Linked DNA regions of Homo sapiens: region 1 is linked to region 2. Evidence: fine-mapped expression QTL. A gene starts in region 2. The other region holds a variant in brackets. All regions are shown on one strand. Distances are between the middles of the regions.

Evidence for each region.
Region 1: its variant is fine-mapped to the expression of CDC42 in monocytes after LPS (Quach 2016, PIP 0.95).

Annotation. Positions count from the first base shown.
Region 1 is chr1:22,117,404-22,120,342 of GRCh38, forward strand. WNT4 (Wnt family member 4) reads right to left here. Exons shown (of 5, transcript NM_030761.5): 5 at 1-2,939. The coding sequence ends at 2,647. Among named protein-coding and RNA genes, the nearest start is that of WNT4, 24 kb to the right of the region's middle. RefSeq lists enhancers at 665-714, 2,877-2,939 and a silencer at 1,730-1,899. The variant G/T (reference allele first, on the strand shown) is at 1,825.
Region 2 is chr1:22,051,260-22,053,759 of GRCh38, forward strand. It overlaps CDC42 (cell division cycle 42), which reads left to right and starts at 1,450. Exons shown (of 6, transcript NM_001791.4): 1 at 1,450-1,483. RefSeq lists silencers at 1,539-1,688, 1,749-1,968, 1,979-2,158 and enhancers at 1,871-2,438, 2,439-2,500.

The sequences.
Region 1 (2,939 bases), 66 kb after region 2:
GGCAGCAGAGTGGGTTAGCAGCATCCAGAGCTGGGCTTTATCCAGCCCTAGGCCTCAGGGCATCACCTTTGCCTTGGGACGAGAGGAGAGTGGTTTGGGCAGGATGTGGACCCTCTGGCCAATTTCCAGGCCACGGTGAGGCCAAGAGGGGGTGGGCTATGTAAGGGCTGTGCCAGTTCCCCCTGGGACAGTTTGGAGCTGGGCATGTCCAAAGAAGCTCCTTTTCCTGTGGCTGTGGATTTCTTTGATCTCTGCAGCACTGGCGGTGGTTGGCCTGGGCAGTGGTTCCTAGAATTTGGTCTCATTAACCTAGGTCGCAACCTTCAGAACCCCAGGAAGATCAGCTTTAGGAACTCCCTGGCAGGTGAAAAGGGCAGTTCCCATCATACCAGCATCCAGCCTGGACCTACTGTTCCCTGGATGGGGAGAGTGGCTCAGCTCTTTCCTCTGGGAGGGGAGGGGTCCTCATTGTTCCCTCTTTCTGGGTCTAGCCTCTGCTAGTGAGGCATAGTATTTTTTTTGGGCTTAGTAGACAGCTGAACAGCCAGCCAGGGGAGCAGCGGACCCAGCTGGGCAGCTGTGGCGACAGTTGGATCAGCTTTCATCCACATCAGAGCTGGCCTGCCCCAAGATTATCAACCACATTTGAATGTGGCTCCAGCACCTCACTTGGTTTTGGCTTCCTCCTTGTATGGACATTGAGCAGAGATCTTGGCTGGGGGCCAAGGGTGTTGACCCTCTTTTCATGAGGGAGCCAACACTAGGAGGCACAAACCACAATGCCTGGAGAAGAGTTTCTGCAGGCTGGAGCCCATATTCCGAATCTCGGACGTTGAATTCAGCCACTGAACACAGGAGCCAGGAGCTTGGAGTCTGGGAACCCCAAGTGGGGGATCACAGAGCATAAAATCTCCGACCTGAAACTTAGAGCCCCAGTGTGGGGGCAGTCTGGAAAGTGGGCTTACAGCAACTTCCTCTGGTGATTGGGAGCCCATCTGAGAAGCAGATGGGTCAAGGGCAAGGTCTTGATCCATGCATGTCCTTCTCACAAGCCTGGGCGGGGCTCGTGATGGTTTGGCGGTTGTACAGGGTCAGGCCCAGGTTGCTGGTGCTGTCTCTTGGGAAATCTTGCAGTACCTATGGTACCTGGGACCCCAGGGACTCGGATGTGCTGGGGAGGGGTGCACCACACTGCTGAGACCTCACTGTCAGCCTTCCAGCTGTTCACATCTTTCCTCAGAGCCTGTTCTGCCCTTAGGAACCATGTGGGCTCCAGCTCAGCCTGTGGTCTCTGGCTCCTGCTGCTTCCCTGCCCCTTTTCGTCCAGCCAGAACCCCTGCCCCAGGCTCAGACCCAAGAAGACCTGCAGTTTCTCTACCTTTGGGTACAAGAACCAAGGAGGAGGCTTGGCTGGAGGACTCTTCTGGCCCTGCCTGTCCATCCAGCTTGCTGTGAGAGGTCTGGGGAGCACTGCCGTCTCTGATGTCAGATGGGCATTAGCATTCTTGGTTTGTCTGCTTCCCAGGACTGTTGTGGCCATCAAGTGAGATGGCCTGTACAGGGCCTAGAACACGTAGTATTTGCTCAATAAATTGTGTTGAGTAAGATAATGGGAGAGGACTTTATTGCACAGCCCTTTCCTCCCTCCCTCTCGCAGGTGTGTGTGTGTGTGTTTTCCTTTTTCAGTTTCATGGAGGAACAGTGCTGTGAAAGGTGACTCAGGGGCATGACTGCAAAGGCACAGCCCTTTCCTCCCTCTCTCTCGCAGGTGTGTGTGTGTGTCCGTGTGTGTGTGTGTGTGTGTGTGTGTGTGTGTGTGTGTGT[G/T]TTTCAGTTTCATGGAGGAACAGCGCTGTGAAAGGTGACTCGGGCATGACTGCAAAGGCACAGCCGGGATCCCTGGTCCAGGATGGCAGCCTATATGCCTGCCTAGGTGGGTCTGGGGAGTGGTTAAGTTTCCTCTTCCCAGGGGCAGGCTGGGGCAGGCTGGGTTCTAGGGTGGGACTTCAGTCGTCTCTTGCTCTCATCTCCCTCTTCTTGCCTGGAAGGACCCACAGATATCGAACCTCTAGCTGTCCATGTAAGGGCTGAAATGAACCTGGTGCCCTTGACCTGGTATCTGCTTGTTCCCTTTCTCAGGGCATTTGAGAGACATGGCTTCTAGGCTCAAGCTGCCAGGAGTCCATGTGTATGTGTGCTGGAGAGTTAAGAGTTCTTTTTTCCAGAGGGTGTGACTTCCATCAAGTCGGTACCTATTTTCCCTGCCATAAGGCCCCCTCTTCCCCGATGACACGGTCAGTAGCCATGTGGTGGTAATACTCCTTGTTACTCCACCTTAGGTCTGCAAGTAGAAAAACGGACACAGATAACAACTGAGTGGTCAGTGGCAGCCACATGCGGGCAGCCAGCGGCACGAGCAAGGTCCCTTTGGTCAGTGGCAGCCACAAAGGCCCAGGCTTTGGGGAGGCCCTGGTTGGTGCCCTTGGGGTTGCCTGCCTGGTTTCGGCAATAAATAACATGAGGACCCAAAAACCAAACCAGAACAAAAAATACAACCAGTATCTCTTGGGGTAGGTGGTGGGAGACTGTTTAAATTATCGGCCTTCCCTGGGCCACTAGGTGGTTGCCGGCGCAGGGCTAGGCAGGCGGTCATCGGCACGTGTGCAACTCCACGAGCCGCTGGCACTGCCGGCACTTGACGAAGCAGCACCAGTGGAATTTGCAGCTGCAGCGTTCAGCCAGCTCCACCTGCGCCGTGTGGAAGCCGCGGCCACAGCACAGCAGCTCACAGCCGTCGATGGCCTTGGACGTCTTGTTGCATGTGCGGCCCCTCGTGCCCAGCACGCCGCTGCGCATGTCCTGCTCACAGAAGTCGGGGCTAGGCTCCAAGTACACCAGGTCCTCATCTGTGTGCGGCTTGAACTGTGCGTTGCGTGGCACCA
Region 2 (2,500 bases):
TCTCGATCTCCTGACCTCGTGATCCGCCCGCCTTGGCCTCCCAAAGTGCTGCGATTACAGGCATGAGCCACCGTGCCCGGCCTAGGATAAGCAATTTAAGCGATTTTTCTCTAACATGGGGAAACATCTAAGAATAAGAGAGGGAAGTTCTCTATTTTCCTGAAGCTTTCATACTAGCAGAGAAGACAAATAATAGATACTGCGAAGATAGGATGATTGAAGAATGCAGTGATATAAATTTGGGGGAAGAGGAGGGAGGCAGAGCAAAGAAATTCAAGGCCTTGGCCAGACGTAATGTCTCACACCTTGTAATCCCAGCAGTTTGGGAGGCTGAGGCAGGCTGATAGCTTGTGTCCAGGAGTTCGAGACCAGCCTGGGCAATCCAGCAAAACCCTGTGTCTACAAAAAAATACAAAAATTAGCCAGGCATGGTGGCATGCGCCTGTGGTCCCAGCTACTTGGGAGGCTGAGGTGGGAGAATCGCCGGGACGTCGAGATTGCAGTGAGCTGAGATCGTGCCACTGCACTCCTGCCTGGGTGACAGAGCAAGAACGTCTCAAAGAAAAAACAACAACAACAACAACAACAACAACAACAAAAACACAAGGCCTGTGGTTGGGGGAAGGTTGTAACTCTAAAAAAGACCCATGTGGCTACAGCGAGGGACACTGGGTGTAGGTAGAGATAAGAAGAGTGATACTCAGTTCTCACATCACGGCGGACTGAATACAGGCCCGGGGAGTGAGAGACCATCCACCCCTGTGATCTGGGGCAAGTCACCAGCCCTTTCAGAGAAGCTTCCGTCTTCTCTGCAAAATGGGACAATACCTTGCTTCACAAGCTTGCAAGGATCAAAAGAACTGGTAGTGGGCCGGGCGCGGTGGTTCACGCCCGTAATCCCAGCACTTTGGGAGGTCGAGGCAGGTGGATCACTTACTTGAGGTCACGGGTTCGAGACCAGCCTGGGCAAAATGGTGAAACCCCGTGTCTGCTAAAAATACAAACATTAGCCTGGCGTGGTGGCAGGTGCCAGTGATCCCAGCTACTCGGGAGGCAGAGGCAGGAGGATCGCTTGAACCCAAGGGGTGGAGGTTGCAGTGAGCTGAGATCGCGCGCTGCACTCCAGTCTGGGCAACAGATCAAGACTGTCTCAGAAAAAACAAACAAAAAAGAACTGGTAGAGGAAGCGCTTTGCATACTATCGTTCACAGTATTATTACAAATACAACCATTAGGAAAACATGCAGAGCATAGCCCCGAACTCACGAGCTGCGCCGGCCCGCGCGTGCGCGACAGGCGGGCGGAGCCAGGGCAGTCCAGGCACCGCCTTGACCCGCCCCAGCCTCTTCCCCTTCCCTGTTCCTCCCACTTCCGCGGGCACCCAACTGTGCGTCTCCTGCGCGCTGACGTCAGGTGCGTGCCCCTGTCCGGCAGCCGAGGAGACCCCGCGCAGTGCTGCCAACGCCCCGGTGGAGAAGCTGAGGTGAGTGCGGGGCCCGAGGTTCCCCGCGGGAGCTGCCACCCTACCTTCCCATCCCCGCCGTCTCCGTCCTCTCCCAGTCCTCGGGGACACCCCGTCTGCGGGATCGTGGGGGGCCCGGGAGCACGGGTTGTGGGGGAGTGCCCGGCTCGCGCTGCGTCCTCCGGGCGGGCGCGGGTCCGCGTTCTGTGGGGGAGCCGGGGCGGGGGTCGCGGCCGGGGAGGCAGGGGGCGCCCGTCTGAGGAGGGGCGCGCGGCCGGGGCTCGGGGCGCGAGCGGGACCGGGCTGTCACCGGCAGCGGCGGAAGGAAGGGGGTCACACCCATCCTGGGCGCCCGGGCTCCCCTCCCCCCAGCCCGGCCCGGCGGGCTCCTAAGGGCGGCCGGGGGCCTCAGAGCGACTCGCGGGCGCTTGGGCCGGGCCGGGCGCCGGTCTTCCGTGCTGGCAGGCTGCGTTCCGTGCCCTGCGCTCCGGCCTGGACTTCCTGCTTCGCCGGGCGCCGCCGCGGACATTTTGCGGCGGGGGTGGGGGGGCGGGGGAGGGGAGTGGCGTTGCGGCCGCGGCGGGGCGGTGGCAGGAGGGCAGCTCGCTGGCTGCTCGCGGCGGTGCCTGTCCGAGCTCCCCTCCGCGCCGGCCGCGTCCTCTGGGCGGGGTGGCCCCGAGCCACGGCCTCCAGGCTGCTCTTCCTTTCGGAGGTCGAGTTCCTAGCATTTCCATCCGCTCCTCCAGCCCGCTCCCTGCCGGTTTAGCTGAAGCTTCCCTTTCGGGGAGTTACCTAACTACCTCCCGAAGCCGTCGTTCTGCTGCTTGGTTAATTCCTCTTATCGGGGGGGAATTTTCTTTGTTCGTTTGTTTTTCCTCCCCTTTAAGTCCAAGATAAATGTAGTGTGGAAGATTACGTCATCGCGGTATAAGGAGTGAGACTTAACTCCTACAAGTCAGGGACTTAAATTCAAACAGCATTTTGCAGCCTTAGTCGGTCACCCAGTGGCTTATCCTGCCTGCTTCCCAACACGTCGTA